Linked DNA regions of Homo sapiens: all the other regions are linked to region 3. The links come from fine-mapping of genetic effects on gene expression. A gene starts in region 3. Each other region holds a variant in brackets. All regions are shown on one strand. Distances are from middle to middle. Region 1 holds the start of LOC124902208 (a long non-coding RNA gene). Region 2 overlaps LINC00484 (long intergenic non-protein coding RNA 484). Region 3 holds the start of NFIL3 (nuclear factor, interleukin 3 regulated).

Region 1 (8,179 bases), 230 kb after region 3:
CGTGGCTCTGCAGAACAAAGCGGCCTATGGCCTCAGTGCCCAGTGAGGGAGGCAACCGCCTACTGGGGGCAAAGCATACAAGGGCTCCAGCCCACACCGCATTTCACATCACGGGAAGGGACTAGAGAGTTGATTGATCCCTTGGCCAATCTCGTGACCAATGTTCTTGCTGCTAGGACTCTTTCCTAGAGGAATATTGGAGAAAATTTTTCCGCTGGGGTCTTATCACCTCATTGGTCCATGCACTACTTCATTTTTGTTCGTGCAGTCTTAGAGAGTCCTGGAGGTTGTCAGGGGCTGAGAACAGACCTCTTAAACCTTATTTGGCCTTTCATAGATTTCATGTGGGGAGGGAGTCCATAGTCCACCCTCTCTCCAGATGTCAGCCACATGGCATCTAAGAACCACAGGAAGTAGGGCTTCCAAGAAGGGACTTCTGGTCTACCCTAGCACGTGGCGTCCCCCAGCAAGGGCCTGGACCAGCCCAGATCAGGGGAGGAGCTCAAGGCACTGTCAGGGAAGTGGGTCAACCATGGAGACAGGGCATTGAGAAGGTGCCAACACCTGTATCAAAACTCTTCTGGAGGCAAGTAACAGACCCAGCTTGAACTGAACGAGTCAGGAAAAGGGACTCCCTGTGCCCAGCCAGGGAGCCACTGGACTGCTGTCTCAGGACTCTGGGAACTCAGTCTTTCTTCTCCCATCTCCCCATCTCCTCTGCTATCCAGCTTCCCCTGTGGTAGGAGGATATGGCCCCTGGCAGCTCCCAGGCTCCCAGCCACAGAGCAGGGTGCTCTTAATTGCCACTCTGCTCAGAGATGTTTGGGGAGGATGAGGGCCCTAGGCCAGGGGGGAGGTGTGGTAATTGGTAGTTGGTAGCCCTCATTAGGACGTCGTGATTGGGGTGGGGTAGAAGCCCACCATACCTGGCTTTCAATTCTAGCAGACGGCTACATGGGTATTACTGGGCTTGTTCTTGTCCCTGTGTCTCTAGGTTATTAGTGCATTTCTTTGTTCACCTTTGGACATGCAGGATGGCCAGACACCCGATGTGTGGCTTGTGGACCCCAGCAAACCACAATGCAAGATTCTCCAAACCCCTATTGCCACCAACTGAGTAAATACGCTTGGCACAAAATGGGCTACTGTCTTCCTGGTGCTGTAAGAGTTGTGTTTAATGAAATACCAAGTCATCATTTGATTCATGTTGGTTGTTTGTCATTTTGTTTTCTCAGAGGAAGACAATTGTCCAGTTACTCTCATGTTGGGCTCCTCAAACTATTTTGAAGTTCATATTCAGAAAAATGGGAGCCCGGCTGGGCACAGTGGCTCACACCTGTAATCCCAGCACTTTGGGAGGCCGAGGCAGGCGGATCACGCAGTTAGGAGATCGAGACCATCCTGGCCAACATAGTGAAACCCCATCTCTACTAACATACAAAAAATTAGCTGGGCGTGGTGGTGCGCACCTGTAGTCCCAGCTACTCGGGAGGCTAAGGCAGGGGAATCGCTTGAACCCGGGAGGCGGAGGTTGCAGTGAGCTGAGATCGTGCTACTGCACTGCAGCTGGGCGACAGAGCAAGCCTCCATCAGAAAGAAAGAAAGAGAGAGAGAGGAAGGAGGGAGGGAGGGAAGGAGAGAGAGAGAAAGAAAAAGAAAAGAAAGAAAGATGGAAATGGGAGCCCCTACTTTTTGTTGCTTGAGGAGCAGTTCTAAGATTTTCTGCTGCAAGTGATCAGGCAACACAAGTGAACTTGTCCTAAACAACAGAGCCTGTTTCTAAATACAACTTCTACAGAAGAGAATACTTGTTTTTCTTTCTTCTGAACAGTTGACACGGCCCCGAAGTTATGTAAGATGAGTTAACCTGCAGCGCTGCCACATGTTCTTGTGAGAAGTTAAACAAGGAGAGGAAAACAGGAGGGAGGAAGCGGTAACTTACCAACTTCCTCCCGTCCGAAGTCCTTGATTCCAACTCTTTCCTTCGAAGAACAGACTTTGTGATAACCTTTACTCTTGATTGCTACGTGACAGCAGTGGCGGGGTGGGGGGTTGTAAATGGCACAGCGGCGGGTGCGGCGAAATTCGGGGTGCGGCCCTAAGCCACACGACTTTCCGCTGCATCGAGAGGGTTGTGCATGTGCTCAGCTGAGCCTCGGTGCTTGGAGCAAGCGTGTGCAACCCCAAGGCCCCCGACCGCGACTCGCTGCTAACATTCTGGCTTCACCGAAAGCCAGTGAGTGGTTAAACACTGACTTCTGACCCCTGCTCCTCCGGCGATCTGTCTTGCCCCTCGCATTCCTGCGGGTCCCGGGCTGGGGGACGCTGCCTACGTGCGGCGGCTGCCCTTGCGCGGCCGAAACGCCGGCTGCTTCCTGGAACGCGGTGCAGATAAGAAGCCGCTGCCGGGCTCGGGTTTCAGAAGCGCGCCACCGCGGGTTACAAAACCCTGTGTCATAATTTCACTTCGGATTTTTTTTTTTTTCTTTCCTAGTGCTGGCTTCCCGCAGAAGGACGTTTTGTGTGTTAGGTCCATGTGTGCGTGTGTATTTCCTTTTGGTAATTATTTTGGAAAACGTTCAGAGGCTAAAAATAGAGAAGCCAGAAGCCTCCTTGCTGCGCGACTCGCGGCCCCAAGCTCTCCAGCGCACAGGGTCCTGCTGAGACACAGCGACGACCACCGTGTGTCCCCGAGTGCCCGAGCCCCGTGCCGGGCCTGGCCGCTGAGGACGCGCTCCCCGCCACCGGCTCATTTTCTCGGTTCTAAAACCTTCAATGCCCGTCGCTAGCAACTTAATCTGCGCTCTAACTCGCAGAATTCTTTTGACCTGTTGGAGAAAAATAGCATTTTAAGATGTGGGTTATTCAAGAGGGTGGAGTCGGCTAAGTTTAGTGGACGCTAAAAATAGCCCAGCGGTGCGGGCGGGTCAGGCCTGGGGGCGCCAGGACCTCCGCCCTCACCCTGCCCCCTACGGGCCTACGAGCCGCAGCCCTCCCAGGGCCTGTGCGTAATTCTAGCCAAGGCCCAGTGTCATTTCCAAGAGGTGCCTCTCGGCCGGGTTACTCATATGTCAGATTCCCATTCTCACGTTGTGTTTCACGCAGCAACTGCATTTCCAAAGAAAAGCGTGAGTCACTACCAAGTGGCTGCAGAGGGAGGGGAGGGCCACCATACACCGGAAGAAAGGGGGGGGGGGAAGGGGCCTTTTTATAGCGTTCTGAGCTGGCTTTCTTTTCCATAGGTTAATTTTTATCTTAACTACCAAACTTAGGCTGGATCGCCTTTTTATAAGAAATCTATTTAAATACAAGGGATTATTTGAACTTCTTTTTAAAAAGCCAAGGGCATTTTTTGTGTGGTTCTCAGCTTATAAATAAAATATATTAATAGTTGTTTAATGGGCATTTAAAATGCCAACTGCCTGTGACTGTTTTTAGTGCATTCTTCAAACACCACTTGGAGACCTGAAACTGCCCCCTCGGTTCAGTCCACAAGGGGACTGCCACCTTGCCATGGGCCAGGTATACCCAGCCCAGCGAGGCCAAGCTCATTGCTCTGAACAGATGGTGATTTTCAAACTGAATGCTATTCTGGTGTACTTATTTAGGAACAAGATCTAAAAATAGACTTGAATGAGCATAACCTGCAAAAATAAGTTGTCAGCTTCTTTTTAC[T/C]CCTGGAGGGTTGAAAACAAAGCTGTCAGCAATTTCTGCGAGCTGAGGAATCTGTATACTTTCTTATTTTAGAGAGAGCTTTTTCAGTGGGACTGTAATTGAGTCCCCTTAAATCTTTGTGTCAACAAATTACCATCTGTTGTTCTAGAGACTCTCAAATTGGTGAGACTCGCTGCTGCTTACTGCCGGGGTGGAGGGGGATGCTATCGTTTGCCCTTGTGGACATGAGCTTTGGAGAGGGAATGGGTGCCGCTGGTATCCGACGTCATTGCAGGAATGAGTCCAGGCTCTGCCAGCCCCCATTACCCAGACCCTGGGGTCTTGTAGAGGTAGTGATTGAGAGATGCCTGGGAGTATGGGCTTGGAGACAGGGGTGGCACTGAGGTGGAGAGGAAACCCCAGCCAGTTTTGGCGGGGCCTCAGGGGAGTCTCAACACCTGTTGGTGGCTGGGGTCATAGTAGCCCAGAGCGCTGGGTTTTGAGTAAATCCATGAAGCGCTCAGCCCTTCTTTATAAGGTACTTGGTGTAGCCTTTGTGGCAGGAAACCACAGGTAATGGGGACAACAGAGGGCCTTTGTCCCCAGTCTGGCACATCCACACCATTTTTCTGTGAAGTGACCGCACGTGCTGACCTAGAGAGAAGTCAGAAATGGAACTGAGCCCTTGTTTCTTCTTGGAGAGGAGTTCCCCTGAATATGGGAAACCGAATGAGGATGGAAATGGCCCCTCTCTCTGGATGGAGGATGGTGTGCAGAGTGGTCCCCAGACTCCGTACCCTTTGGAGGTCAAAAGTCTAGGCCCCAGCAAGCCCTAGACTTGGGATGGCTGGCCCTGGGGCTGCCCATCCCGTCCAGAGAGCTTGCCTGGCTCCCAGCAAGGTTCTGTGCCTTCAAGCAGGGGAAACGGGCTCTGGCCAACAGAAAGTGAAATGAGTGGCATTAAACTCAGCAAAATCAAGTCCTGCAGATCCGCCCCCAGAAAGCCTTTCTCACCCTGGTGTGTTTAATTTTGCAGGTGCGCCTCAACTCCAAACAGCTCTTTTAAAACAATTTGCCCACCAATAGGATTTGCGATTCTGGGGATTAGAAACTTTCTCCATTCAGCATTTACTGTATTTTAACCTCCATGGGAATGCTGTCTCAAAAGAATGGAAACAAATCCTGGTTCCTACTTCCTATGCTCCCAGGAAGCACAGATGTGCACGCATGCGCGCGTACACACACACACACACACACACACACACACACACACACACACAATGTGGAGAAGAGTGATTTCTCCTGGGTTGGGGATGGTGACATATCTGAGGACAGAAAGGAGGAAGAGAGCTGCCCAGGGGCTGGGAGGGGCTCCAGAGCCAGGCAGTGTCTCAGAGGGTTACCTCCACCTTGGGCTCTAGGAACCACCAACTCTCTGCAGTCATCAAAAAGGACAAGGCCGAGGTGCCTGCGAGGTCTGGGCAGATGTCACTGGGGCACTGAGGGGCCTAGAGAAAGTGTTGGCAGCTCCTGCCTTTTCAGTCCCATGGGAAACTGCCCGGCCATCAAATGGTCTTGTGTTAGCTGGTAAATTAACTTAATGTGACCTGTTTGTAAAAGGGGCTGGGGGGTGGGGGGAATTATGTTCATTACGTTTCTCAAGGGCTGAGTTGGGACTGAAGCCCCCACCCCTGCCCCGCAACCTATGCCCATGCATATTCTTTTTAAAGGCAGACATCACTAGATATTGCCAAGAAAAGCCCCAGGTTCCCGAGGAAGCTGCAGTGTGGTCTGGACACCCTTGCTTCCAGCGGGTGACACTGAGGAAGACAGTGGGGAAATGCCATGTGTCTTTCTGACCTAGCAGGATGAATCTCACAGCCCCTTCTTCAGACCAAAAGCACATCAGTGAATCAAAGATTTTTGAATATTTCAAAATAATTTTAAAAGATGCCATCAATAAGTCCAGTTCCTAAATGCATCATCTTTAGAGAAAATGAAATTTTTAAAAGGAATAAAAAGCACATACACAGTGACTGGGCATGGTGGCTCATGCCTGCAGTCCTAGCTACTTGGGAGGTTGAGGCGGGAGGATCATTTGAACCCAGGAGGTTGAGACTTCAGTGAGATATGATGGCACCATTGCCTTCCAGTCTGGGTGACACAGCGAGACCTTGTCTCAAAAAAGAAAAAAGGGGGAAAAAGGGACATAATGCTTCACAAATTAAATGGAACAGGCCAATGAAGCTTTGATGGTCTTTGAACTCTTAAAATAATGACTGTCTTGGCATGGACGGGGCAGGCTGATCCTTGGGCTGCTTGCTGTGGTCCAGAGAGCTTACCACCTGTGCTGGGACTGGGGACTGCTACCTGCCTCAGTGATGTGGTTCTGGAGAGAAAGTGCCTGGCAATGGAGAGAGGCGTGGGAAAAGAACCTGCCTCAGAAGATACAATCATGCTGAGATCCGTACAAAGAAATGAATGGGGATGATAATGATGGTGCGTCAGGGAGGATCCCAGGCTGCAGCCCCTGGTCCTATGCAGGAAGGGTTATGTGTCAATTCTGCTATATGTCAAGCGCCATACATTACAAGAAAGTATCTAGGTTTTGACAAAACAATTTAAATTCTAGGAATTTGCCATAACCCAGTATGTACACAGAGAATGTTAATCTTGGAGTTAGGGGAAGCCTTCGTCAATGGGAAAGATGGGATAAATGCATTAAAGTTCATGCACTCTATGCAGCAATTGAGAATCATGTTGTAGGGGTGTCCATATAATTATCATAGGAAAAAGTTTACTATGTGCTGTTATATTGAAAAAGCAGGTTACAGTTCAGTAAGCACAATATAATCATATTTTCATGTAATAAATATAGTACATGCACCTATTCTAATTTTTCTACAATTGTATTCATTTTCTATTGCTGCTGTAACAAATTACTACAAACTTAGTGATTTCAAACAACACAGATGCATGTATCATTGAGAGTTCTGTAGTTTAGAAGTAAGTGGTTCTCACTGATGAATGTGACGGTGTTGGCAGGGCTGTGTTCCTTGCAGAGGCTGTAGGAGAATTCTCCCCTCATCTCTCTGGCTGCCTTCGGCCACCCTGTCTCGTGGTCCTCACCTCCAGCTCAAAGTAGCAGCAGGAGGTCGAGTTCTTCCCACACCACACCAGACACCCCTGCCTCCTCATCCACAGCTGAGGACCCTGTGGTTACACTGAACACACCTGGGTGATCCAGGATTCTCTCCCCACTTCAGGGTCAGCTGATTAGCAACCAGAATTCCATCGGCCACCTTGACTCCCCCGTGCCACGCAACCTAACATTCACAGGGTCCAGGGATTAGGGCATTGCTATGGTGCTGATGTGTGTCCCCTCCACATCCATGTTGAAATGTGATTCCCAAGGTTGGAGGTAGGGCCTCGTGGGAGGTGTTTGGGTCATGGGGGCAGACTCCTCTCAAGGGACTTGGTGCCCTCCCCACAGTAAGAAGTGAGTTCTCGCTCTGTTAGTTCAGGTGAGATGGAGTTGTTTGAAAGAGTCTGGGACATCCCTGCTCTCTCTCTTGTTCTCTCTCTTGCCATATGACACACCCGCCTCCCCTTTGCCTTCCACCATGATTGTAAGCTTCCTGAGGCCTCACCAGAAGTTGAGCAGATGCTGGTGCCATGCTTCCGGTACAGCCTGCAGAACTATGAGCCAAATAACCCTGTTTTCTTTATAAATTACCCAGCCTCAGGTATTTCTTTATAGCAAGCAAAACAGACTAATACAAGCATGGATATATTTGGGGGCCAGTGTTCTGCTTACCACAACAATATACATGTATTCATTTTAATTAGACAAGAAGAGCTAGGAAAGCCAGAAAGCTCTTGTCATTTTGTATCAATTTTCATTTCAGCATTAACATTCCCCTTCATTTCTGTAACCGTAATTCCCATAATTCTCAGTGTTCTAAATTTACATTAATCCAATCTCATTCACTTCATATCATAGCTTTTCCATTTCTATGTTCTTGATTAATTAGGCAATTTTATTTTACTTTTGTTTTCCTAAAATGTTCTGTATTTCTTGAATCCTGGCAATTTTGAAAATACGTGTCTATTGCCTTTGACTAGAGTAATTAATGACTTACCTGGGTGTCAGATTCTTGGGCACGATTTTTTCCTCTCTGATGATCCTGAGGATCTTTTCTCCTGGCATTAAATATTGCTGGTAAGAAGTCTAGGGATAATTGAGCCCTCTCCCCACAACAGTTCTGTGAAGAATTGTTCATTTGAAGCCACTAAGACTGTTGCAGTAGAAAACTAATATGGTCATGCTGCTGAGGACCCTTTCTGGGATTCCTTAAGCCCAACCATATTCCAGACTGGGTTGAGGTTGTCCAGTCATGCTGTCTCAGCGTGAGATGCAGGCCTCTGCCCCAGACCTGCCCAGCCCTGGGTGGATGCCCAGCTTTGTCTACTGCTCCCACTTCCTTCACAGCTTAGGGAGGGAAAGGACAAAACTATATGGATT
Region 2 (8,179 bases), 240 kb after region 3:
GGTGCAGGGGTGGAGGAAACAGCCTGTCAGAGGCAGTTTCGAGGGTCAGGAGGTTTGCTCAAGGAACTCCATGTGCAGAAGGACTCAACCCTGATTGCATATTACAATCACCTGAAAATCGCCCGGCCAGAGCCCCACCCAGGTGACTTCAACCAGTCCTGGGGTAGGATCCAGGTGTGGGTATTTTTTAAACTCCCCAAGTTAAGTTATTGTCATGATACAGCTATTGACCATGACTGGTAAGAGTTGTTGATTCAGTGAATGAAAGTGTGTTTAATTTTTTTTTTTTTCTGAGACGGAGTTTTGCTCTTGTTGCCCAGGCTGGAGTGCAATGGTGTGATCTCGGCTCACCGCAATCTCCGCCTCCCGAGTTCAAGCGATTCTTGTGCCTCAGCCTCCCAAGTAGCTGGAATCACAGGCATGCACCACTATGCCCGGTTAATTTTGTACTTTTAGTAGAGATGGGGGTTTCTCCATATTGGTCAGGTTGGTCTCGAATTCCCTACCTCAGGTGATCCGCCTGCCTTGGCCTCCCAAAGTGCTGGGATTACAGGCGTGAGCCACGGCGCCCAGCCTTAAATTGTAATCAAATAGCACTTTTCAAAAAGCTAACTATAGACAAGAAGGTGCTGGGTCCCAGAATGTGAAAGTACAGGAGGCTTAAGTTAAACATCGACGGCCCCTGAGCCCTGCCTTTCCACCAACAAACCAGCCAGGCTCCCAAGAAAAAAAGATGCCCCTTTGTTACATGAGATGAACATCTTAGACTGATCTATTAATGAAATAAATGTACAATTTGAGACTAAACAGCTGGACAGGAAGATGGGATGGGTCTGACTTCAGACACTATTGGCTGGTGCAGGAGCAGGAGGGAGGCAGAGTGGCGGTCTGTGCCCACTCGTGCGTTCATTTGTGACTATTATACAAGTAGTAGCACTCCAACATTTATAGTGTAGCCTCGGAATTATGCAGAATATATTTGCAATCTATTTTTGGTGGCAGAACTGGAAATAGAAATTTAAAAACCTGAGAGAGAGAGAGAGAAGAAAAGGAGGTGGGAAGAGCAGGAGCTTCATATTCCAGGTGGAAAGTTGAAGTCATGAAACCAGACAAATCTCTCTTTCTTTCCTCTAATTAATTAAAGGTTGTAAAGTCAGGGTGTGGGCTGGGTGTATTCCCTTTATTTTTTAAAACCATGTTTGACAGCTCCAGGCTCCCAGGATTTCATCAGGATCTCAGGTGCGCTGCAATTCATGTGTCATGCACCGGGTTGCGTAACTGCATTGTTACACGGGCAGCGTTTCTCTATGGAGTCCATTTGCATCATCTCATCAGGAGAGAGGAAAGCCCACAGCACCATCTTGCCCTTAAGGAAAAGGTGCAATTTCTTTCATGTTTTAAAGTAATCGCCTGAAAGATAAAAATACAAAAAGAAAAAAGTAAAAAACACCCATAGTGCCCACCAGTTAACAATGTTTAACAGCACGCTTCACCTTGCCTTTCCTATTTTGAGCATGGCGGCAAAACAGAAAGATTCTGGTCATGGACTTTGGACACAAGTTGCCTGACTTCAGAATTCAACTTAGGTTGGTCGCTTGCCTCAGTTTCCTGATCTGTGAATTGGAGATAACAGTGGTAACCCAGTTGAGGATTAAGTGCATGACTACAGTATCTGAAAGGTGCCGTGTCTGGCCCTGATAGGACACAGTACTGCTATCCTCACTACCATGACGACTCCTGACTTCTTCCTGTACTTACAAAAGACACATGCACACACACACATGCATAGACACAAACAGGAACACACGCACCATGCACCCACATTCCAACAAGTCAATGCTTGTGCTCATTTGCACACACACACAAACATGTACATACCTGTGAACACACACATACTTTTTTCCACAAACAATAACGTACTTACTCTACGTAGAGGTCTGCAGCTGCACACACATCACAACATGTCATGGATATTTCTTCCAGTCAGCAACCATACACTTTCCAGCAAGGGTGCCATTCTTATTAGCTGTTCCTCCCTGGATGGTTGGGGTTGTCCTGAGCCTTCACTGTGACCCAGACTTACCGCTGCAGGGCTTGCTGTGTGTTGGGGATGCAGAGTTTTAACTTTCTCAGATACTGTCAAATCGCTGTCCCAAATCCACGCCACTTTGCACACCTCCTGGAGGGCCTCTCTCTACGTCCTGGTCAGGAGTGCACGTGGATGCTGGACTCTACCAATCGGATCATTGAGAAATGCTCTCTCATTAATTTGGATTTCTGTAATTATTATTTATGCAAAGACTTCTAATACATCTTGCGCAGCCTGTAAGCACCATCGTGAACAATGTCAATCTATTCTTGGCCTGCACAGTTTGTTTTATAGCTTTGCTACAAACAAAAACTGTACAGACAACCCACAGCTCACTCAGACCAGTAATGTGCCAAATTAGCTCATGAGGCGAAGAGGAGTTCTAAACGTGGAACACTGTTTCCAGTTGCAATATGTTGGAAATGCCCATCCTCATCCTACCAAGCAAATAATTCAGCATCTAGTCATTCATTCAAAAATTGTTTCCTGAGCACCTGTCTGTGTCAGGCTTATACTGATTATAGGCTTTTGAGTGGCATCAGTAAACACAAATTTTTAAAAATCCCTGTCCTTGTGGAATTTATGGTCTATCCCAAATCTTATCTGAATGTGGGCACCTGAGATGAGGACCCCACAGCATATGGTGGCCGCTGCGTGTGGGAGTCCATAATGGCTATGGACCCACTTGGTGTCCCACTGCAGCTGTGACCAAGGCCACTCAGGGTGGGTGGGCAGACAGTGCCCCTAGGACCATGGGACAGGATCAGCAGAGAGTGTCTCATGGCCCTAGAGCAGTTCCTTACACAGATGGGAAAAAGGAAGCCCAAGGGTGCCTGCCTGCCCACGGCTCCTGGGAAGCCCACCTTCCTGCCTTCCTCCACGGGAAGGTCTGAGGAGCCCTGTCAGGCCCCCACTGTTCCCCGGCACCCATGCACTGAGGTCCCGCTCTGGGGCTGGTCTCCAGGCCGGTCCCTGCTGAGCCCGGGCTGGGGCAGAGCAGCGAGCAGAGGTGCAGGAAGGGCCCAGGCAGTGGGACCCACTCTGTGCCGGCTGGTGTCTGCCTCTTACTCAAGTTAATGGGACTGGCCCTTGGTTCCCAGTTCCTATTTGAAATATACCAGGAAAGGACTGTGATGCCTTGTCCTTGGCCGAGACTCTTGCCTCTGGACCAAGCAGCCGGCCAAGGGGGGTGGCAGCAGTCACTGGGCCAGCGTGTTTGGGGGGGCTCAGCCTGGACAGGTCACCAGTGGGGTCGCTGAATAGCGTGGCTGAGGGAGGAAAGCATTCCCCAAGTCCTCAGGGGCTTTTCCCTGAAATGGAACCAAGCCATGGATGTCCACAGCACCAGCATGCAGTGGCCATTTGCAGGCCTGTGGCGAGGGCTGACTGAGTGATGGAGCCACTCACAGTGGCACCCCAGCCTCATGGAGCTGGCACCAGGCCTGTGCAGCTAGGGAGTTTCAGACACAGGCCCAACACGGGTGCAGGGCTGTCCTGGAGAGAGGGCTGCTCATTCGGACAGCCAGGCGCACTTCCCCAGGGTGCTGATGGGTGATGTTTGAGTAACAAGTGACCACTGACTCGGTGGCTTAGAACAGCACAGCTTTGTTCTCTTACTGTTCTGGATGCTAGAAGTCTAAAACCAATCTGACTGGGTTAAAGTCAAAGGTGGGCAGGGCTGGTTCTTTCTGGAGGCTCTAGGGGAGAATCCATTTCTTTGCTGTCTTTCTGCTTCTGGGGGCCACCTGCATTCCTTGGCTCTTGTCTCCTTCCTCTGTCTTCAAAGCGCATCGCTGCAGTCTGTGT[T/G]CATCAGTGAGTCACCTCCTGCTCTCTTCTGCTCGGACTGTCTCAGGAGGACCCTTGTGACTACATTGCCCTCCTCCCCCAAATAATTCTGGTCTTCATCACATCTGCAGAGTCCTGTTTGCCATGTAAGGTCACACCCACGGGTTCTGGGGATTAGGATATGAACATATTTGGGGGCCGCTGTCATCCTGGTACGTGGAGAGACACAGAATGTTTCTCTGGGCAGGGGTGTAAAAGATAGGATTTGCAGGCAGAGAGAGCAGTGCCCAGCACCTGTGGCCCACTCTGGGCCAGTGAGTCAGCCCCGACCTGTTTCCAGCCTGGCCCGGCTCTGCACTGGGCAGGTCCGAGTGTGGCTACTCTCTCCAGGAAGTGTGGGTCCCTGTGGGGAATTGCAAACCCACCAGGTTGGCAGGAGCCAGGGACACAGGGCAGGCAGCAATGGTGGGATGGGAAGGCCGACCTTGTGCGTTGCAAGGGTGTCCCCACCTAACCGTGCAGAGCTTGGGCACACAGCATGGGGGTGCTGTGGGGCACTGGCGGCATAGAAGGTAAGGGAGGATGCCCTGATGGGATGCACATGATCTCGGTGGAAGTAGAATGAACAGACCGGGGCGAATGGAGCCGATGTTGGGATCGTAAGAGCCACCAGCCTAAGCCTGGATCCCTCGGAAACGTGTGTGTTGGCTCCTCAGCCAGCTGCGGGTTCAGCTCACGCCTTCCGGTCCTCTTTCTTGCCTGCTCATTGTATGGTCATCTGCAGGGAAGTCTTTCCCTTCTCGGCTCCATGAGGCCCACATCTGCACAAGTGCACCTCTTTGTCCACCCTGATGACTCCCTGCAGCCCCACAGCCCTCTCCTCTGAAGGCCTGTGACACCTCCAGGTGGCAGACAAAGGGGCTGGCTGCTCTGAGGCAGGGGAGGCGGGGTCTCCCCACTGCAGGTGAATACACTTGTTTCCAGATGGCACCAGGTGGTATGAGATGCCCGGGAACCACAGAGTGACCTCCTGTCCTCCACTCTGCGGCTTACTCCATGCTGTGCAACTTGACAAACCTCAGTAACTTTACCTACAAGATGTTGGTTTCAGGGCAACTCTGACACAACCCTACCTTGCTCTCCGTAGGCCTTGGGCTGTGCCCAACAATTCGTCTTCTGTCATAAATGAGGTATCCTCTGTCACAGATGAGGTCCCCTGGGACTGGCCCCTGGGAGCAGCAGGAACTCACCTGCCTCTCCTAAAATGTCCCCAGAGCGGGACTGAGCCCCAGACAGGAGTCCCAGCAAGGCCTGCTGGGGATGAGGGAGGCTCACGGGCAAGTCCTGGTGTCAGGCGGGGCATGTCCACACGTGGGGCCCCACCAACACAGGCCCACATAGGCAGGCTGCCTGTGCGCCTCTGCTCACTCCACACCCTGGACAGCCCAGCCATTTCCATCCTGGGGGTGTTTAGCCCACAGCTGAGAAGGATGGGGGGGTTCTGTGGGCAGGGCCAGGCAGCAGGGCTTGGCACTGTGGGCCGTGTGGGTGGTGTCCGAAGTTTCCAGCCACACCCCAGTGCTGCCCACACCCCTGCTGGCTGCTGAGTTCTGGCGCTGGGGCGTTGTCTCTCTGAGCTGTGCAATACCTGGGACCCCTCCTCTGTTTTCCTGTTCATCCAGACTTCTCATGGCCTGAGCTATGTTTCCCCTGGTTCCCAAATCCATCCAGCTCAGAGTTTCCCTTGCCAAACCACAGAAATAATACACAGCTTGTTTCCTGGCAAACACACCTTCCAGAGCCAGACTCAACTTGCCACAAGATGGGCTTATCATGAAATCAAATCTTAACACTGCCGTTCTCTGGGTTTTTGATCGTCCTCACAAAGGTGGGGAAACTGGAGTTGGCGTGTTTCAGAGCAATGGAAGCAGGCCACAGTCTGTTAACTCTGTAAAATAAAACCTTCTGGGAAACAGAAAATTTACCTGACCACCAGTGGGTGTGTGACCACAGGACTCTGGCTGGGGCTCCTGCCTGCTCACCGTAGAGATTGCAAGGGAACAAACAGTGCATCGTTTCCAGTTTGCATCTGTAGGTAACCACGTTTGAGTGAAGCTGGGAGCTGTCTCAGAAAAACGAAGCTTCTGAGCCAAGCGCGATGAATCCCTGTGCCCTCAGCAGGCCTGCCAGGCACAGCCACGGTGCCCGGCCAGCACCGCCACCACATTCACCGCTGCAAGGAGCTTCCTGGCTCTGCAGCAAGATCACACCCAGGCCTGTGGGCCGTGGCAGCCCTGTTTCCTCATTGCCGTCCCTGGGAGTCCTCTCTCCACCTTTTCATTGTCCCAGCAGGTCAGGCTACCCAGGGATGCCCTGGATTTTGGATCTCCTGGCACACTGACCGAAAACCCTTCTTTTTCCCTCAGAAAACACATTGGAAATGAGAGGGTATGAATCAGATAAGCTTAGGGACATCTCTGAAGTCATTAACATCTATTTTAAGCATCAACTGTGGGGTCTGAGACCCTAAGTATCATCTGTGGCTAATTGTCTGCAGCTTCCCCCAGAAATGACCGCCAAGCCACACTCCAGAGCTGCTGTCCTGGAACAGCCTGTAGGGAAGGAGCAATTTTTTGTAGTTTTTCCCCAATCTGTCTTGGGCCAGTGCTTTTGTAAAACACAGAGGACATGGATTACTGAAACACAGGCACACACTTTGATGCCACAGTCCTGTCAAATTGCCGTGAGAGTTCTGAACACGTACACTTCCTTGCACTCTGTTATCTCATCATGGGGCAGAAACCAGCAGCTCACAAGTGACCTGGTCCACGGACTCTACTGGGAGAGAGCTGGCAGCCCCATACCCTAGATTCTCTGTGTGTTCCTATTTCAGCCATAAACAACCTTCTTATTGTTCTTTTTGTTTGACAGACAGAGTCTCCCCTCTGTCGCCCAGGCTGGAGTGCAGTGATGGAATCTTGGCTCACTGCAACCTCCACCTCCCAGGTTCAAGCAATTCTCCTGCCTCAGCCTCCCAAGTACCTGGGATTACAGGTGTGCGCCACCACGCCTGGCTGATTTTTGTATTTTTGTAGAGACGGGGTTTCACTATGTTGGCCAGGCTGGTCTCGAACTCCTGACCTCAGGTGATCCATCTGCCTCGGCCTCCCAAAGTGCTGGGATTACAGGTGTGAGGCACCACACCCGGCTGTTATTATTATTATTTTTTTAAATAAACCACAGGTGCTGTCAAACTGCCAGCCAGAAAGTCCTTTGTCAGACCATGCAGCCTGATCTTCAGCCAGAACACTGTCATGGTGGCTCTTCTACAGCCCCTGTGAGCCAGCCTTTTAGGGGCTCCTGATGCAGTTCTTCTGTCCACCGCTCCGCAGTCTTGACTCTTGGGCGTCACGTGAGCTTGCCGATGTTCAGGTGGTCAGAGTCTTTCTTGGGCCTGACTTTTATACACCATGTAACATGCTGATTCCTAATCACTAAATATGTCCTAATCCAACTGTCACAGATATTCTGAGCAGGATGGCCACTTAGCTACAGGGTGGAAACAAAAATGAGGACGTCCGCCAACACAGAAACTGCAGTGCCTTCTTCAAAGATTTCACCTGGACATGCTTGTCAAATTCTGTACAACATGCCACCGAAAATGGCAGAAGCCCATTTTCCTTCTTGTATTTTTCTTTTCTTTTTTTGAGACAAAGCCTCAGTCTGTTGCCCATGCTGGAGTGCAGTGGTGCGATCTTGCCTCACTGCAGCCTCTGCCTCCTGGCTCACTGCAACCTCCACCTCCCGAATTCAAGCGATTCTTATGCCTCAGCCTCCCGAGTAGCTGGGATTACAGGCATGAGTCACCACACCTGGCTAATTTTTGTATTTTTAGTAGAGACAAGAGTTTCACCATGTTGGCCAGGCTGGTCTCAAACTCCCAACCTCAAGTGATCCTCCCGCTTTAGCCTCCCAAAGTGCTGGAATTGCAGGTGTGAGCCACATCACCAGGCTCTTCTTGAATTTTTCTACATCCTTCTTCACCTACAAATCCCTTCCCAACATACATGGTTTTCCCAGGGTCCTAGTTAATATATTTGAATATCTTCCAAACCGATAATTTGGTTTTCTGTGTTTCTTTGTCTAGATTTAGCTTTTCTTTCCTTTTAAAAATTAATTTATTACCAAATTTGGCAAGCTCTTAAAAATACATCGTGGAATGGAGTTTAACATTATTAAGTTGGGAGCTGATTTTGGTTCTCATTGGCTTAAATGAGCCATTTCTTCCACAATGGAGCCTGCATA
Region 3 (8,179 bases):
ACTCATTGCATCAAAGCCAAAATCCCAGCAAAAAGCACACACTGATGGGCGTGGGGAGGAGAACCTCACTAAGGCTACCATGCTAGCTCACATCTTAAAGCCTCCACTTGAAAACAAAACAGGTCTGGTGCTGTGACTCACACCTGTAATTCCAGCACTTTGGGAGGCCAAGGTGGGAGGATTGCTTGAGCCCAGGAGTTTGAGACCAGCCTGGGCAACATAGAGAGACACTGACTCTAACAAAAAAAAAATTAAAAAATTAGCCAGGCATGGTAGTGTGCACCTGTAATCCCAGCTACTTGGAAGGCTGAGGTTGGAGGTTTGCTTGAGCCTGGGGGGGTCAAGGCTGCAGTGAGCCGTGATCACTCCACTGCCCTCCAGTGTGGGCAAGAGAGCAAGACCCTGTCTCAAAAACAAAAACAACAACAACAACAACAACAACAACAAAAACGGTATGCTATGGATTCCCAGAAACTGAACTTCTGTTCCTGGAGTTTAATAAAAAGACACAAGGTGGTCCATAAACATACTACAGTGGAAAGAAAATGGTCCTGGCACACAGGAGCCCTGATGCAGGCTGCCGGCCACCAGACCAGACAGGAGGTCACCAAAGGGCTTTTAGTTATCGAAGTTTTTTCTACAAAGAAATCCATAAGTCCAATGCACAAAACAGATAGGGTAGAGCTGCCCAATTTGGTTGCCAGGTAGGCAGCCTGCTTTTTAGCCACTGAGTCCCCCGTCTCCACCCCCTGTTCCCAGGACATCTCTGTAGAACTCAGAGGACTCAGACTGTCCAGCCTCTGGGTAGGTAAGTCCTGCAGTCTTTTATTTTTTAATGAATTGCTTGCCTAAACTGAAAATCAGGATATTTTACCAAAAAAAAGAAAGTCAACTTTCTTTTGAATAATTGGAGCTGTGGGCTGTGCAGTCTTTTATTTTTTAATGAATTGCTTGCCTAACCTGAAAATCAGGATATTTTACCAAAAAAAAAAAAGTCAACGTTCTTTTGAGTAATTGGAGCTGTGGGCTCCTGGAAACAGCAATTGATGAGAGAGCTGAAAAACAGTCTTCTTCAGTGGGTCACTTTCTTTTTGCCACAGTCCACGTGTGGCTAACGTCCTGAATTCTCATTATCCATCTGACTTTACAGTTACTCCGGCCTAGTGAGGTCCACTGTAAAATCCCTGGGATATATATATGGCCTCTTGGGGATGTTCCAGCTCAAGACATTCTGCAGCTGTAGAAAAATTATTACTATATTAAATTAAGTTGTTACTAAATTACAAATTCCTATTAATTCCCATTTTAGTAAGGAGAAGTCACTGTTTTAGTCATTCTGTTCTCAAGCTATAGCTCTTATATTTGCTTAGTCAGAAACCATGTTGGCAGTATAATAAAATGAATTAGAATGTGGTTGATTGTCTTCTGCTGGTAGTTCTCATCCCTGTCCAGGCACCTCCTCCCTTGCCCCTGCCCTCAATCCACCCCTAGCACTGAGAGGTTGCTGAGAGCAAGAACCCCTTCCTCCTCCTCCTGAGAACCTTACAGCCCAGCTCCACCATCAGGCACATGCTGATGTCTTCCTAGAAGCCTCCCCACCCTGGTTAATTTGTTTCAAATATCTTAGGTTTTTATGCTCCATTTACTCGAGTTAATCTGCAAATACTTACCTACTCTGTGAATGTTCTAGGATATAATATTAGATACATCATCACTTCGGCCCTGGGGACAGATCCTTCATCCTGTTGTTTAGTGGTGTCCTAATCACCAGGAGGAGCTAAAGAGTTGTTTTCTAAGCTGGTATCTCAGATACCTTTCACACTTCCTCTGATTTCCAAGTTAGATGGTAACAATGAATGATGCACAGATATAATACATACACAATCTAAAATACTCCAAGTAAATATAGGAGCATTCGATTTCAAAATTCAGCATAAAGAATAAGTTTCCAGGTTGAGAGAACTCCTCCAGCATCACTGCCTGGGGTGGCTCCAGGCACGTTCTTTACCTGTCTTGAAGGTCGAGTTGTCTTTAAAGAAAGACATTTACTACAACGGCTTTGAAATTCCATGAAATTATTCAAAATGCAGAACAAGGTCAGAACACGTGAAGGGGAGGGTAGATTATGCAGGACAGCCCTGGATTTCTAGACAATAGCTGCATTTCTGACCCCAAAAAGGCAACTAATATGGATATGATTTTGATTTCATCTAAGAGAGGTTCTCAAAGCTACAAATAAGCATTGTAAGGTTTGGGCAAAAAGGAAACTATCAGTAAATTTGAGAAAAGTGGCCAGGCACAGTGGCATGCGCCTGTAATTCCACTACCAGGGAGGCTGTGGCCGGAGGATCCTTTGAGCCCAGGAGTTCCAGGCCAACCTGGACAACATAGTAAGACCACATCTTGAATTATTATATATGTATGAGAAAAGTGGAAATTATAAACTAAAATCAGGATTTGTTCTCATGAAGGTAGTCAAGTTTGGAAAATGTGTAGTGGAGGGGATGTGGTTCTTGCATTAGTCAGCACCGGGAAGATGGTGTCGGGGAACACGCTAAGCCCATATTGTACGTCTGAGTTTTCAGAGCCTTGTCAGCAGAGCTGTACTACCAGATAAATCACGAACAAGAGTGCGTTCAAAACCACAACGCTGCCCTGGAAGGCTTTCCAAAAACTCAACTGATAGGTGATAAAAATTTTTTAAATATGACTTGCGTTATTATGATATTAACTGTGCAAGAAGGGGAAAGGTAGAAAAGACAATCTTGGCGAGTAGATAGATCTGCTGCTCATGGCAGACACTAGGGATGGTACCTGGGTGTTCACTCTGCTCTTCTCTTTACTTTGGTTTTTGCTTTTTAAAAACGAAAGGAGCAAAAAGAAGTGGAAAGTCGTGGAGGCACTCGGCCCAGCCCCCACGTAGTTCAAGGAGACCAGGAGGGAGCTGGCTGGTGGAGGTCCTGCCCACCTGCCACACTCCGTATTTGGGCAAGCCTGTGAGTCACTGTCGGGAACATGGCTCCCTTCGCCAAGGCCAGCACTGACCACTATCCGTGTATCGGTAAACGCAGGGAGTGTGCCACGTGCCTTGACAGTCTAGCGCGACGACTTAAGAAGTCGCGGCTAGGTGCTCTTTTTTCCATTTTTTTACGTCTCTTCCGTAGCCCGGGAATTTGGGAGAGAAGACTACCGTATCCAGTTAGACGCAGAAATAACACTAAGCAGCTATCAGCTCAAAATCACAGGAAGAGATCCCGCGCGGTCGTCTCAAGCCCCAGCACCAAACGACAGTGGGCGTCCCAGCGGGGGCACCCGAGCGCGGACCTTCACATCCTCCGAGGAACGCCGCACCCGCGTGGCGGGGGTGGGTAGATGGACCTCAGCGAGCCTCGTTTCCCAGTCGTGTTACGCAACAACTTTGCAGCCGTCATCTTCGCCCTAATTGTGCAGGGGGCGGTGTTTGTGCGTGGAGCTTTCCCTCCCGGCTCCGGGCCGTCGCGGCTCTCGGGAGAGGCGCCGGGACATTTTAATCGCTGCCTCCGCCGCGCAGCCCTGCGCAGCTGCCCGGCCGCGCCAACCCCTTCCCCGCCGCAGCGCGCCCCGAGTGTTGGCAGCTTGCCAGCCGCCACCCCCCGCCTTCCCTCCTGCCCACCCCAAGGTAGAGGGCTCCTCTCGGGAGTGTGCGGGGAAGGGGAGGCCGAGGTCCGGGCCACGCCCGGGTAGCCGCAACCCGCAGTGCTCAGTCGGCAACAGGTAGCCCAGCAGGCTGCGGCTCTCAGGAAGACAAAAAGCGCCTCTGCGAGCAAGTGAGGGTCGCGGGGAGCGCAGAGCCACCGCGGCGACCGGGAGGGTGAAGGGAGCCAAGAGCGGACGGGGCGGTGGGACGGGGGGCTCCCGGGCTCCTCCGCAGGCTCGCTCCGGTCGTGTCGGCCGCGTGGGCCGTTGCGCAACACTCGTTGCGCCGGGAATGGGGCGCCAGCCCTCGCGGGCGCTCGGACGGCGGTGGCCCTGGCCGGGGAGGGACGCGAGCTGGTAGTGGCGCCGCCGCGGAGGGGGAGCTGAGGGCGGGGAGGCGGGGCGGGGCCGCGGAGTGCCCGCCCCGGCCCGCCCCTGCCGGCCGCGGCCATTGGCGGCGGGCCGGGGGCGGGTGCGGGCGCGGCGATTGGGGCCGCGGCCGCCAGTCACGCGGGGCTGGCGGGCGGCGACGTAGCGCGGCGCTCGGAACTGACCTACTAACACACATCTCTCCGCGCGGCCACGGCGCCCGCGGACCCGGCGCGCCCGCCCGCCTCCCGCGCCGCGCCCTCGCCGCCGCCCGCCTCCCGCCGCGGCCCCGGAGGCCCGGCCCGGCCCGAGCCCCGAGCGCCGGCGGCCCGACTCCCGGCCGCCCCTTTCTTTCTCCTCGCCGGCCCGAGAGCAGGAACACGGTAAGCGCTCCGCCCACCGCCGGCCGGGGGCCCGGCGACCGCTCCCAGGGCGCGCTGCGGGCGGGCGGGCGGGCGCGGGGTGCGGGCCGCGCTGTGTGCGGGGTCGGGCTGTAAGCTGGGCTCGCCAGCGGCGGCGAGTGCGCGCGGGGCATTCATTACATAAACTTTTGCTGCCTTGTCAGGATGGGACTCGCCACCTTAAGGTGGCTGCTTTGATTGCAGCGCCTTCGCGCCGGCACGTAGTCCTGGCTGGTTTGCGCTCTCCCCCCGCTGCTGTTGCATAATGTCTCCTGATTTCAGGAAAATTGATGTTTTGGTAAAGAAGAGCGCCAGGCAGGCTGAGCCCTCTCCGAGCGGGAAGATGCTCTTTCCTCTCTAGTGTCTTTCTTTCTCGTTCCTTCTCTGGGGCTGGCGGCGTAGGGGGGAGAGGAATGGGGGGTTGAGGAATGGGGAATAGTCTTAATTTGCTTGGTGAGAAAAAGGGTTGGTAGCGTGAACGGTGACGGCATTCGGAGAATGCCTGCGCGGCGTTTGTTTGTGTCAGGGGCTGTGTCTGCACAGACGTTTTCCACCCTGTTTGTCGTCAGCGTGTTTTACAAGCCCTCGGGAAGGTTGTGGGATTTGTCCTTTCATACATTGCATAATCTGCCCACGGTGAAATGTTGGCAAGAATTGCGGGCTGATGTGGGAATATGCGCGTATGTGTGCAATGATTTGGTAATTGAGGCGCAGCGTTGGATATTAGATCGTTATTTACGTCTATATTACGTCCCAAATAAACAGGTTTTAAAACGATACTACAAAACCTAAAAGCAAGAATTGCTCGCATTGAATTCTGATCTTGGGTACTACTGGGGTTCGCCCTTTCAATGTTCTCAGCTGTTATTTTTAAATCTGGGACGAACCATTGTGACGTTTACCTCCCCACCTTCCTAATTTTAATGCATTCCATTCGATCAGCCCTTTTTCTCACCTTATTGTCATTGCTTTTTCAGACACGACAAGACAAATCACATAATAGTTTCCTGGAAATGTTGCATTATGTAACTGCCGAATTTGCTGGCAGTGAGCATAGAGAGAGGGAGCTAATTACGTGATTTTATAATCTTGCTACAAAGAAAGTAGGACAGTCTCAGCCTTTAAGAATGTCACTATAACAGTTTTTTTTTTTTCCTTAAGGATATTTTAAACAGGAAAGTAGACAACCGGGTAAGCATGGAGTTTGCTCATGCTGCCGAATGTGTGTCTTTTGCCCTAAATGAAACGCACGTTCTTCTAAATTTAGCCCTATCACATTTTAACAATTGTGGCCTCGCAGTGCTATTTCTGGTGTTTTCTCCAGGGCTGTGTGCAAATACAAGTTCAAGGCCATTTGCTGTAGTTTTAACTCCACGCCTTCGGAGACCTTTGATAAGATTGTATTTTTAGGAAGGCATTTCGCAGCGCCCGGTGATTTGCTGGATGCTGGCTCCCATTTATGTTTTTAAAGGACACTTTAGGAAACTGCTGTTCTCTGAGAACAGCAGGGAATGGCCAAGTGTCATCTTCTGTTCTTGGCTTTTGTAAATAACAACAGTAAGTGAGGTCAGAAGTATTTATTTACCCCCAGACCAGATATGACCTATGGGAAACAGATATAGGTTAGTAGATTGTTTTTTTGTCTGGATACCCTGGTTTTACTTATGTGAAGATGTGTGAATATGTAATTTACCCAAATATTAAATTTCTTCCTGGACTGTTACATAGTGATTATGTGTGAATATATGTATATGATGGGATGTATATATAACGTAACATTTAAATTAAGTGCAGGGTTTTTTTTTGTGGGAGGTGGGGGGTGGACGTCTCTGGAACAGAGTATATTACCCCAAATAATTGCAGTCGCTTTCCAAGAAGCTAGTTGCTCTAGGCCCCCAGCTTCAGACCCCGACCTACTTTGCGAGCTCGGGTGGGAGTCCCAGGCCTGTAGGGGCCGCGTGGCGCCACCTTCCGATCGCGATCTCCAATGGCGAGTCCGTGCGGCCCCCAGTGCGCCGCTCCCTCCTGCGGGCCGGTGGGGTCTGCGAGAATCCGGGGCTGGGGGCGGGTCTGGTAGTGGCGGGCGGGGACCTCGGGTCGGGACCGAGAAGCGCCTCCGAACGGCAGTTATACTGGGGCTGCTCAGTGGCCTGAGCTCCTCCCTGCCCCCTCCCCACATTCCTTTGTTCTGGCGCGGGGGGTCCTCGCGGCGCCGAGGCCCCGCTGCGCCGCCCACCCGGAGGGAGGAGGGTCTCTGGGAGGCGCCGCGTGGGGGCGCGGCCCGTGGAGCCCGGGCGCTAGGGACCGGCCGGGGCCGGCGTACGGGTGCGCTCTGGGTTCGCCCGGGCCGCGGGAGCCAGGGAGCCAGGGAGCCAGGGACCCCGGCTCCCGCACGGGGCAGACAGGGGCAGCGCGGGCGACCCGGAGCGCCTGCGTCTCCGCGGCCCTCCTTCCAACAGGGCAAATCCAGGGGCCTGACTCCGCGCCTGTTCTGCGGTGAGGTTCAGAAACCTGCAGACACCTTTGTTCCAAGAGTCTTCATTGTATTTCGGAACCAAGCGCGTCTCCATTCTTGAAGTGAAAAAGACCTTAAGAAAAACCTCCAAACGTCCACCGGCCACAGAAATTGGGGGTGGAGGCGCTCCAGTATTGATAGTGATTAAAAGGAAGGCCTCAGCTTGACTTTGGCCAGTTGAGTTGAGCCGATTTTTTTTAACCTTTAATTTATGTGGTCAAAGGCTAGAGGAGAGAGAACACTGATCTCCAGAGTTCAAAATAAAATCTAAACGCCCACATAGACGCTGCTGTCCTACTGTAAAACTACAGTACTTTCATCCTCGCATAAAGACTTCCAAGATTGTACCCATGCAGTAATTCATGGAGACATCACAGATGTTCTCCTGAAGCATATCAACGCAATCTGCTCTTTGTTGAAAACTGACCGAAAACTTGCTTTCTTTGGCATCATACCCTACACCGCTATCCCTAATCAGTTTCCCTCCTGTTACAGGCAGTAGTTAGAGAACAGGTTTCGGTGAGGTACAGATCCTAAGAGCGCAGGCCCTGGGCTCACAAGAACCCTGGGTCCCAGGCCCCAGCTTGTTATCTTCCAACACTGTCCTGATTTCCATCACTCTCCAGGGTAAACTGAGGGAATAAAACCTGTTGACTTAGTTGGTTGTGAGGAGTTCAATAAATGTTTCCTGTGTTATTGATCAGGAACCAGAATCTGTGTGTGTGTGTGTGTGTGTGTGTGTGTGTGTGTGTGTATTTACCTTCATTTTTCTCTTTGTAAATCTCTTCGCAGTAACAGTAAGGATTCGTGTTGGAATTAAGTCTGTAAGATCTTTCTTGAGATACTTTTTTTGTTCTAATAATATATATATTTTTTAATTTGCCATCGTGTTCAATGTTAATTTCAGTTTGAGGGGAATTCCTGACAGGATTGCAGAACCTCAAACTTCCCAAGTCATTGGGTTAATGTTTTGGGGAGCTGCTTGAAGGAATAGAGAGATGAGTCGATTATAGTAGCAGGAATGACGTGACAATTGCCATATTAATAGCTCAGCTTTTTCCAATTCCCTTACACATTCTGTGACTCATTTTCTGTAGCTTGGATGATTTCTCTATCTAAAACTTTGTGGTCTGAGATCAGCAGTGGATGGTGAGACCCCACAGATAAGCTCTCTTGTAGGGGGTATATGTAGCCTGAAAACTAAGGCCAGTCCTGTGAA

What was found.
Region 1: its variant is fine-mapped to the expression of NFIL3 in whole blood (GTEx, PIP 0.98).
Region 2: its variant is fine-mapped to the expression of NFIL3 in fibroblasts (GTEx, PIP above 0.99).

Annotation. Positions count from the first base shown.
Region 1 is chr9:91,188,027-91,196,205 of GRCh38, reverse strand. It overlaps LOC124902208 (a long non-coding RNA gene), which reads right to left and starts at 3,184. Exons shown (of 2, transcript XR_007061660.1): 1 at 3,090-3,184; 2 at 1-2,828. RefSeq lists enhancers at 245-539, 1,496-2,363, 2,267-2,526, 2,945-3,239, 4,206-4,375 and 1 more. The variant T/C (reference allele first, on the strand shown) is at 3,676.
Region 2 is chr9:91,175,700-91,183,878 of GRCh38, reverse strand. It overlaps LINC00484 (long intergenic non-protein coding RNA 484), which reads right to left. Exons shown (of 3, transcript NR_135306.1): 3 at 1,117-1,410. Among named protein-coding and RNA genes, the nearest start is that of LINC02937, 17 kb to the right of the region's middle. The variant T/G (reference allele first, on the strand shown) is at 3,896.
Region 3 is chr9:91,419,888-91,428,066 of GRCh38, reverse strand. It overlaps NFIL3 (nuclear factor, interleukin 3 regulated), which reads left to right and starts at 4,235. Exons shown (of 2, transcript NM_005384.3): 1 at 4,235-4,427. It overlaps LOC124902209 (a long non-coding RNA gene), which reads right to left and starts at 6,445. Exons shown (of 2, transcript XR_007061661.1): 1 at 6,363-6,445; 2 at 6,008-6,048. LOC105376146 (synapsin-1) reads right to left here and starts at 4,034. Exons shown (of 2, transcript NR_188612.1): 1 at 1,671-4,034; 2 at 457-1,237. RefSeq lists silencers at 1,391-1,587, 3,898-4,297.